Regions from separate parts of the Homo sapiens genome. Here region 2 is linked to region 1. The links come from fine-mapping of genetic effects on gene expression. A gene starts in region 1. The other region holds a variant in brackets. All regions are shown on one strand. Distances are from middle to middle. Region 1 holds the start of CEP20 (centrosomal protein 20). Region 2 overlaps CEP20 (centrosomal protein 20).

What was found. PIP is the estimated chance that this variant, and not a neighbour inherited with it, causes the effect.
Region 2: its variant is the best candidate, but not a certain one, in a credible set for the expression of CEP20 in aorta (GTEx, PIP 0.68).

Annotation. Positions count from the first base shown.
Region 1 is chr16:15,886,005-15,891,528 of GRCh38, reverse strand. It overlaps CEP20 (centrosomal protein 20), which reads left to right and starts at 2,926. Exons shown (of 5, transcript NM_144600.4): 1 at 2,926-2,971. The coding sequence starts at 2,944.
Region 2 is chr16:15,861,299-15,866,298 of GRCh38, reverse strand. It overlaps CEP20 (centrosomal protein 20), which reads left to right. Exons shown (of 5, transcript NM_144600.4): 5 at 1-580. Among named protein-coding and RNA genes, the nearest start is that of MYH11, 6.8 kb to the right of the region's middle. The variant G/A (reference allele first, on the strand shown) is at 2,847.

The DNA of each region.
Region 1 (5,524 bases):
CGGACTACAGGGACACATGCCAGGCTAATTTTTTGTTTTGTTTGCTCGGTTTTTTTGTTTGTTTGTTCGTTTTGGTTTTTTTTGACACGGAGTTTCACTCTTGTCGCCCAGGCTGGAGCACAGCGGCGTGATCTCGGCTCACTGCAACCTCCACCTCCCAGGTTCAAACGATTCTCCTGCCTCAGCCTCCCGAGTAGCTGGGATTACAGATGCCTGCCACCATGCCCAGCTAATTTTTGTATTTTTGGTAGAAATGGGGTTTCACCATGTCGGCCAGGCTGGTCTCAAACTCCTGACCTCAGGTGATCTGCCCTCCTCGGCCTCCCAAAGTGCTGGGATTACAAGCGTGAGCCACCGTGCCTGGCTGTTTGCTCTTTTGTTTTGTTTTGTTTTGTTTTGAGTCGGAGTCTTACTCTGTTCCCCAGGCTGGAGTGCAACCTCTGCACCCCTGGCTCACTGCAACCTCTGCCTCCTGGGTTCAAGCAATTTTCCTGCCTCAGCCTCCCGAATAGCTGGGATTACAGGCCTCTGCCACCACGCCCGGCTAATTTTTGTATTTTTAGTAGAGATGGGGTTTCACTGTGTTGGCCAGGCTGGTCTCGAATTCCTGACCTTGTGATCTGCCTGCCTCAGGCCTCCCAAAGTGCTGGGATTACAAGCGTGAACCACCGCACCCGGCCTTGTTTGCTCGTTTTTAAAGACAGGTTCTCCCTATGCTGCCCAGGCTGTTCCCCCTCCCTTTAAAAAAAATAGTTAACAATTATTGATTGTATATTTCAAAATAGCTAGAATACTTGTAATGCTTCCAACACAAAGAATGTTTGAGGTGATGTTTATCCCAATTGCCTTGACTTGATAATTACACATTGTATATGTGTATCAAAATATCACGTCCCTCCCCATAATTGTGATATATCAATTTTTCTTTCTCTCTTTTTCTTTTCTTTTTTTTTTTTTTTTTTTTTTTTTTTTGAGAAAGGGACTCACTCTGTCGCCCAGAGTGGAGTGCAGTGGTACAATCAGCCGTCCAGGCTCAAGTGATCCTCTCTCCTCAGCCTCTCGAGTAGCTGGCATGCACCATCATATCTGGCTAATTTTTTTTTTTTTTTGTAGAAATGCGTCTCATGTTGCCCAGCTTGGTCTAGAACTCCTGAGCTCAAGCAATCCTCTATCCTCGGCCTCTGGAGTAACTGGGACTACAGGCATGCACCACCATGCCCGGCTAATTTTTTGTATTTATTTTGGAGAGATGGGGTCTTGCATTGCCCAGGCTGATCTCAAACTCCCGAGCTTAAGCAATCCTCCCTCCTCGTCCTCCCAAAGTGCTGGGATTACAGGGATGAGCCACCGCACCTGGCCAATGTATCAGTTTTAAAAACAATAGGCATGGAACCAAAAGTATGCTGGAAGTTCCTCGGAAAGAGGTTTCCTTGCTCTTAGGTGGTTTTTTTTTTTTTTTTTTTTTGAGGCGGTGTCTCGCTCTGTCGTCCAGGTTGGAGTGCAGTAGCGCGATCTCATCTCACTGCAACCTCTGCCTCCCAGGTTCAAGCGATTCTTGTGCCTCAGCCTCCCAAGTAGCTGGGATTACAGGCTCCTGCTACCACGCCCGGCTAATTTTTGTACTTTTTTTTTAGTACAGAGGGGGTTTCACCAGGCTGGCCAGGCTGTTCTCGAACTCCTTACCTCAGTCTCCCAAAGTGCTGGGATTCCAGGCGTAAACCACCGTGCCCTGGCAGCTCTTAGGTGTACTTTTTTTTTTTTTTTTTTGAGACGGAGTCTCACTCTGTCGCCCAGGCTGGAGTGCAGTGGTGCCATCTCGGCTCACTGCAAGCTCCACCTCCCGGGTTCACGCCATTCTCCTGCCTCAGCCTCCCGAGTAGCTGGGAGTACAGGCGCCCGCCAGCACGCCCGGCTAATTTTTTGTATTTTTAGTAGAGACAGGGTTTCACCGTGTTAGCCAGGATGGTCTCGATCTCCTGACCTCGGGATCCGCCCGCCTCGGCCTCCCAAAGTGCTGGGATTACAGGCGTGAGCCACCGCGCCCGGCCACTCTTAGGTGTACGTCTAATCGATGTTTATTATTTAGCCAAGTGTTTGGATCTCACCGGCATTACAACTGGAATCATGCAACCTCACACTCAGTTTAGGGTACATTATTCCCCTGTTCCTTTTCCTTTACTTCCATGGGATGTTGGAGCTTATTCCTTCATTAGTTAGTTCCATAAAAAGCTCCTGGACTCCTTACATGCACTGTGTAAGTGCGAGTGGAAGAGGACAGGCTGGTGACCTTGGTTAAGTCTCTTCAGCGATGGAGGACTCTGTTTCCTTCATTGTAAAAACGGCGTGATCATAAGGAAATAATGCGCTAAGGCGTCACAGTAAGTGCTTAATACAGTGGTTCTCGAGGTGTGATCTCCAGACCGACCAGCAGTACCAGTACCACCTGGGAACTCGATAGAAATGCAAATCCTAGGGCCTCACCCCAGATTTACAGAATCAGAAACTCTATGGGGAGGACTAGCAAACAATCCGTTTAAACAAGTCTTGGAGGTGATGAGGATTCATGCTCAAGTTTGAGAACCGCAGGGTTAATAGGTGGTAACTACTAGCAGTTGGTACTTGAGGCTGCAGAGACAATGAAAAACTCAGCTGGCTAAAGTTAAGCACTAAGGTGCCAGCAGCACCCCACAGGGCTCTCCACTGCCTCAGTCCCCGCCCTCCCTGCCGTCTCACTCAACTGGGCCTTCCGAGAGCGCTCGCTGATTGGTGGAGTCTCTGGTCGACATTCACTACCCACTCAACCGCAGAGCTCATAAACTGAGAGGGGCGGAAGTGGGCGGGGCGAGAGCTGTGCGCCTATTGGCTACAGACCACGCCGCAGGGTGAGTGGGGCGGAGCTGCGCGTGCGCAGGGCCGCGGTGCGGCCCTGGCGGCCGTTGAAAAATGGCGACTGTGGCAGAGTTGAAGGCTGGTGAGTGCGAGCAGGGAGGCCTCCACATGGGAAGCGTCGGGCCTTCATCTTGTGGAAAGGATGGGATGGGAGGAGAGCGCGCGGAACACATGGGTTGGCTTTTACAGGCGTCATTCTTCGGTGTGAGGGCCTGCGGGGAGCGTCTGGCTGCTGTCTTGGCCCGTGCGCGGGGAGCTCTTATGGGGAAGAGGTTGCCCACTGGCGAGTTTTAAGCCAGTTTGGAGCTAAAGGAGGAGTTGCGTAATCTTCAGGCATCTAAGAGGCCTACAGGCCTGCATCTTGGGCCCCTGGCTCATCTTCTTGGACCCTGCCGGGGGCTGGAGGACTTGGACCAGGCTTGGCACTCAGGGCTGATGACTACAATTCCCACAACCCCTATTGGGTTAGGCACTGCCCTAAACAATTTGCTTGGTTGTCTCGTTGGGTCCTTACAACAACCTGTTAAGTAGCCCTCCCCTCCTTGCTTTTTTTTTTTTTTTTTAAAGAGAGGGTCTCTCTGTCGCCCAGGCTGGAGTGCAGTAGCGCGATCACAGCTCACTGCAGCTTCGAACTCCGGGACTCCAGCTATCCTCCCACCTCAGCTTCCAGAGCAGGTGGGAATACAGGGGCTCTTCACTACGCCCGGCTAATTTTTGTATTTTTTGTAGACACGGGGTCTTACTGTCGAACTCCTGGTCTCAAGCTATCCTCCTGCCTTGGCCCCCTCAAAGTGCTGGGATTACAGGTGTGAGCGCCTGGCCCCTTTTTCATCAGAAGAAACTAGAGGCAAAAAGTTTGCTGGCCTGGCCATTCTCCTGTCTTTTCAGGAAAAGATACTCTAAGCTAGTTATGTTTGAGTCATTAATGACATTTGTACGCTGTTTACTTTGAAGCAAATGTCCAGACAAGTAATAGTAATAATAGTTATCATTGAGCCTCATGTGTCAGGCACTACTCAACTCAGCCTGTGTGTTACCTGATTGTAACAACCCTATGCCCATTTCATAGACTGGGAAACGAGGTACTGAGAAGTGAAATAGCTCAAAGTGATTTCACTGGAAAGAGACACAGCATGGGAACCTAGTTGTGACGCACTGGAGCGCCAGGTCTTAATCACTGAGCAAGATTGCTGTCCAAAAAATAAAACCAGTTCCACTTTGCAGGGAACCCAGGGTTTAAACTAGTAATTCTTAGATATTTTAGGGAGGAGACGTGTATAAAAGTGTGTATTTGGGGACAGGGCTGGTGAACAATCATAAAACAGAACAGGCATGCATCTGTCCACAAGAACAGACTTCACGAGTCTACAGATGCTGTTCCCAGGGAAATACACATCACATGTAATATTGCATACATTTTCAGAGGATTTAAAGGTACACTTGGAATGGGCCAAGCACAGTGGCTCATGCCTGTAATCCTAACACTTTGGGAGGATCGCTTGAGCCCAGAAGTTTAAGACCAGCCTGGCCAACATGGTGAGACCCCATCTTTATTTAAAAAATAAAAATTAAAAAAAAGAGCCGGGCATAGTGGCCTGTGGTAGTTCCAGCTACCCCACAGGCTGAAACAGGAAGATAGCTTGAGCCCAGGAGATAGAGGTGACAATGAGCTACAGTGGTGCCACTGCACTCCAGCCTGGGCAACAAAATGAGACCTTGTCTCAAAAAAAAAAACAAATTAAAAAATAAAATAAAAAAGGTACTCTTGAAATATAAGCGAGGTTAAGACCTTTCCGAAGAAGTTTTGATGGCGCAGTGTTCTAAGCATAATAGAGGGAAAGGTAAAATGCTATGGACCTCCAAAAGAAACCCGGTGAAAACTTGTTTGCCAGCCAGTTACCTTACATTTTATGGGCATTTACCTTTTTTAAGCACGATCACGTTTTTCCTTCTTACTTGGTTCTATCTCTGAGAGGTAGAGCTCATTATTTTAGAGAAGGCAACTGAGGCATGGGTTGGTAATCCACCACTGAGGTGCTGATGAGACATGCTAGCTTTCCTCATTCCACTGTCACTAATTCTCGTTTCTCTGTCCAGTTTGAGGCTGTCCTGTGTGCAATACAGAGTAATTGGGACAGGATCCTTGCCAGTGACAAAATCTCTCCATCCAATTTCCAAAGATGGAATTAGAGAATAGGGGTTCAGTTATGATTCTAAGAGTACAATAAGGCTGTACCTTCCTTTTATGGACCTGTTACAAACTCTGATCTGGTGATAACTGTACTTAACCTATCTGCAAGAAGGTTGAAGGGATGCTTTAAAAATGAGGGGAAAGAAAGGTCAAAAGTCAGTGAAGATTCTATCTCTTTAGTCATATGATCCAGGGTTATTGTTGACGTTATTTATTGAAGCTTAGAAAGATCTTATGTCCATACTGACTTGGATAAGCTCCTGGGCTCTCTTTATGGATTTTTGTTATTGTGATGTACTTACTTGGTGCCTTTGGCAGGGTGCAGAACAGTGTTAAACTACATTGATTTCCCAGTAGTGTACAGCAATGTATTATAATCCTTCTAGGTGACACCTACTGAGCTCTTGCTCTGTTCTTGACTCTGTGGATGAGATGTGTTCATTC
Region 2 (5,000 bases), 25 kb after region 1:
AAATTGGCATCCTCTTTAGGGTGTCAATTCTGTGCTGCTTTGCAAATTGTTGAAACTTTTGATTTTCTGTTTGGCAATGCTAGTCAGTGTTCACTTCTTACAGATTAGCCAAGAATTTTTATCTAAATGCAGAAACTTATTAATGAAATCCATTTAAACTATACTTACACAACATTTTGGGAGGCCCTGCTGGTAAAATTATATATGGATGCAGAAGTATTGCAAGAGTCCATTTTCCATTTTTAAATCTGCAATATCTGATTACATTGATGAATTCCGTTGTATTGTATGTGTGAATATAAATATCTGAATTCTCCCGGGGGACTTGGTTTTCGTCCAAGGATGTTGGCAGTGGACACTTAGTTTACCTCAGGAATTGCAATCATGTAAGACTATATTCGGAAAAAATGCTGGAGTATATAATTTTGGATACTGATATAAAATCATCAAGATGGAAGTTAAGCAGAATTGTCACGTGTAGTCCATAGCGCTTTTATATGCATTATTCTGTAATTTGTTTGTACTGCGGCAACTTTTTATACTTTCAATGTATCATTTAATAAAAAAAATAAGCAAGTCACTTTGGTGCAAAGGGTGTTCATATCACTGTTCTCTCATCAAAAGCCACACATCAAAAACAGAAGAATGATTGGAGATGGCTGCCATGCCTTCCGTCGGGATCTTCAGAAGCTTCGCTGTTGAGGGGTGGAGGCGGGGGTACTTTCCTGCCGTCTGCACATGTTTATAGGAAGGAAGGAAAAGCACAGAGGACAAGCCAACCCTTCTCATAAATGTGTTATATTTAAGTACCTTACTCGTGGGTTTCTTGGAATTGTCGGGAGAACTTATCTTCTAGAGATGCTCCAGAAGTTTTAGGAGAAAACTTGGATTTACACAAAAACAGGATGGGAATGGGAACTGAAGAGGGATTTAGGAAATGTACAACTTGGGTGATCTAAAACCTCATAGCAGGAGCAGAGGTGGCTTTTGAAGAAGATAAATTTAAGCTTAGTGTATATGCTTGCACAGAACAAACTAATAGCCTTATAATGATGTGCAAGAACACATTTGTGTATCACTCACATACCTTTATGTTGATGTAAAATTTGATGTGTTCTTTTAAAGCCAAGTGTACATGAAAGATGAACATTTGTGAGAATATGCCTTTAAAGGCATTTGGGACAATGCTTCCCGGCCACTTGGTACTTGATTTTTTGGTAACAACCACGATTCGAGGATTGTGTGGTGTTCAGGAATCTTATTAAAATAAAAGTGAAATAAAACTGCTGGCCAGGCTTGGTGACTCAGGCCTGTAATCCCAGCACTTTGGGAGGCCGAAGCGGGTGGATCACCTGAGGTCAGGAGTTTGAGACCAGCCTGACCAATATGATGAAACCCCATCTCTACTAAAAATTAAAAAATTAGGCGCGGTGGCATGCGCCTGTAATCCCAGTTACTCAGGAGGCTGAGACAGGAGAATCACTTGAACTGTGGAGGTGGGGGTTGCAGTGAGCTAAGATCGAGCCATCGCACTCCAGCCTGGGCAACGAGTGAAATTCCGTCTCAAAAAATAAAAAATAAAAAAAAAAAAGCTACCTTTAGGCTGGGCATGGTGGCTCACGCCTGTAATCCCGGCACTTTGGGAGGCCAAGGCGGGCGTATCACCTGAGGTCAGGAGTTCGAGAGCAGCCTGGCAAACATCGCAAAACCCTATTTCTACAAAAAATACAAAATTAGCCAGGCGTGGTGGCATGTGCCTGTAATCCCAGCTACTGGGGAGGCTGAGGCAGGAGAATCGCTTGAACCCAGGAGGCGGAGGTTGCAGTGCGCTGAGATCACGCCATTGCACTCCAGCCTGGGCGACAGAGTGAGACTATTCTCTGGAAAAAAAAAACAAAACAAAACTACTTTTATAAAAGTAGACTCGTTTTTTAGAGCAGTTTTAGGTTCATGGCTAAATGGACTGGAAGCACAGAGCTCCTGACTGCCCCCTGCACCCATGCATGTCTAGCTTCTCCCACTGTCAAGATCCGGCATCGAGTGGCACATGTATTCCAATGGGTGGATCTATTTTGACACATTATTATCACAAAAAGTCCATAGTTACATTAGGGTTCACTCTTGGTATTGTACAGATGCTCTTTGACTCATGGGATTACATCTCAAAACTATCACAAGTTGAAAATAAGTCAAAATGCATTTATTTATTTATTGGATAGGGTCTCACTCTAGCACCCAGGCTGCAGTGCAGTTGTGCGATCTGGGCTCACTGCAACCTCCGCCTCCAAGGCTCAAGTGGTCCTTTGCCTCAGTCTCCTGAATAGCTGGGACTATAGGCACATGCCACCACACCTGGTGAATTTTTGTATTTTTTGTAGAGACAGGATCTCACTATGTTGCCCAGGCTGGTCTCGAACTCCTGAATCCAAGTGATCTGCCCATCTTAGCCTCACAAAGTACTGGGATTACAGATGTGAGCCACCATGCCCAGCCCAAAATGTATTTAATACACCTCACCTACCGAGCATCTTAGCTTAGCCTAGCCTACTTAACATGTTCAGGTCACTTAGATTAGCCTACCATTGGGCAAAATTATCAAACACAAATCCTATTTTATAATAAAGTGTTGACCATCTCATGTAATTTATTGAATACTGTATTGAAAGTGAAAAAACATGGTTTTGTCGGTATTCAAAGTACGGTTTCACTGAATGCACCATTTTCCCACCTTCATAAAGTTGAAAAATCGTTAAGTTTAACCATTATAAGTTGGGGACTGCCTGCACATTCCATGGTTTTGGACAGATGTCTAGTGACATGTATTCACCATTTTAGTATCATGCAGA[G/A]GAGTGTCACTGCCCTAGAAAATCTTCTCTACTCCACCTATTCCTGTCTCTTCCAGAATGTTGTATAGTTGGAATCGTACAGTACGTGGCCTTTTCAGATTAGCATCTTTCATTTAGTAACAAGCATTTAAGTTTTCTTCCTGCCTTTTTTTTTTTTTAGACAGAGTCTCGCTCTGTCACCCAGGCTGGAGTGCAGTGGTACGATCTCGGCTCACAGCAAACTCCATCTCCCTGATTCAAGCGATTCTCCTGCTTCAGCCTCCTGAGTAGCTCAGATTACAGGTGTCCACCATCACACCTGGTTAATTTTTGTATTTTTAGCAGAGACAGGGTTTCACCATGTTGGCCAGGCTGAACTCGAACTCCTGACCTCAGCTGATCCATCTGCCTTGACCTCCCAAAGTGCTGGGATTACAGGCATGAGCCACAATGCCCAGCTGTAATTTTCCTTCGTCTTTTCATGCCTTGATAGCTCATTTGTTTTTAGCACTGAATAATATTCCATTGTTATGTATCCATTCACCTACTGAGGGACATCTTGGCTGCTTCCAAGTTTTGGCGATAGTGAGTAAAGCTGTTATAAACTTCATGTGCGTGCAGGGTTTTGTATGGACAGAAGTTTTCAACTCTTTTGGGCAAATCCTAAGAAGAATTTTCTGGATTATATGGTAAGAGCGTGTTTGTTTTTGTTTCTGTTTGTTTGTTTGTTTTTGTTTTTTTATTGAGACGGAGTTTCACTTTTGTCGCCCAGGCTAGAGTGCAATGGCATGATCTTGGCTCACTGCAACCTCTGCCTCTCAGGTTCAAGCGATTCTCCCACCTCAGCCTCCTGAGTAGCTGGGATTACAGGCGCCCGCCACCATGCCTGGCTAATTTTTGTGCTTTTAGTACAGATGGGGTTTCACCATGTTGGCCAGGCTGGTCTCGAACTCCTGACCTCAGGAGATCCACCTGCCTCAGCCTCCCAAAGTGCTGGGATTACAGGCGTGAGCAACCGTGCCCTGTGTGTTTCATTTTTAAAAAACTGTAGAACTACTTTTATTGAGAGTTTTAGGACCCTTCCTGATAGACATAGAGAATCTATCAGGAATGTCATGAACCAAATCGTGACATCAGAATTGGAAACTGATGATGAAGGAAAGAGCATTGCAGGTTACTATGCAATGCAGTCTAGTATCGGGAGAAGTGTGAGGTCCATCATGGGGGCCACCATGAGTGAAACAAAAGTGCTTTTGTGCAAGAGTTGGAGCATGGCCCTGCTTGTGGTCAGGAACGATGTTCCTTTATTCACAGATCTTGGGCCAGATCTACCTGACTCTATATGAGTCAAGTAGATCAAGGCTGATAACACTTTAAAATTATTAAATCTTCTTTTTTTTTTTTTTGAGATGGAGCCTCTCTCTCTAGCCTAGGCTAGAGTGCAATGGTGTGATCTTGGCTCACTGCAACCTCCACCTCCCAGGTTCAAGGGATTCTCCTGTCTCAGCCTCCCAAGTAGCTGGGACTACAGGCGTGCACAACCACACCCGACTAGTTTTTGTATTTTTAGTAGTGATAGGGTTTTACCATGTTGGCCAGGCTGGTCTCGAACTCCTGACCTCAAGTGTTCCCTCCACCTTGGCCTCCCAAAGTGCTGGGATTACAGGTGTGAGCCACTGTGCCCGGCCAAAAAATATTAAATCTTGAGGCACATGCAGGAGTAAGCCATGCTCAGACCCAATCTTCGATGTTACTAAAAATTGGAGGGGATCACACTTCATGGTTTTGTTTTGTTTTGTTTTTTTGAGACAGGGTCTTGCTCTGTTGCCCAGGCTGGAGTGCACTGGTACGATCACAGTTCACTGCAGCCTCAAACTCTGGGGCTCAAACAATCCTCCTACTTCACTCTCTAGTTGGGACTACAGGCACACACTGCTGTGCTCGACTAATTATTATTATTATTATTATTATTATTATTATTATTATTATTATTATTTTGTAGAGACAGGGATCTTGCTATGTTACCTAGGCTGTTCTTGAACTCCTGGGCTCAAGCGATCCTTCCGCTGCAGCCTCTCAAAGTGCTAGGATTACAGGCATGCCCAGCCACTTTGGGGCTTTTTTAAGCCAACAGCAAAAAAAGACTATAAGAGAGAAATTTCCCCTTGGCTGTCT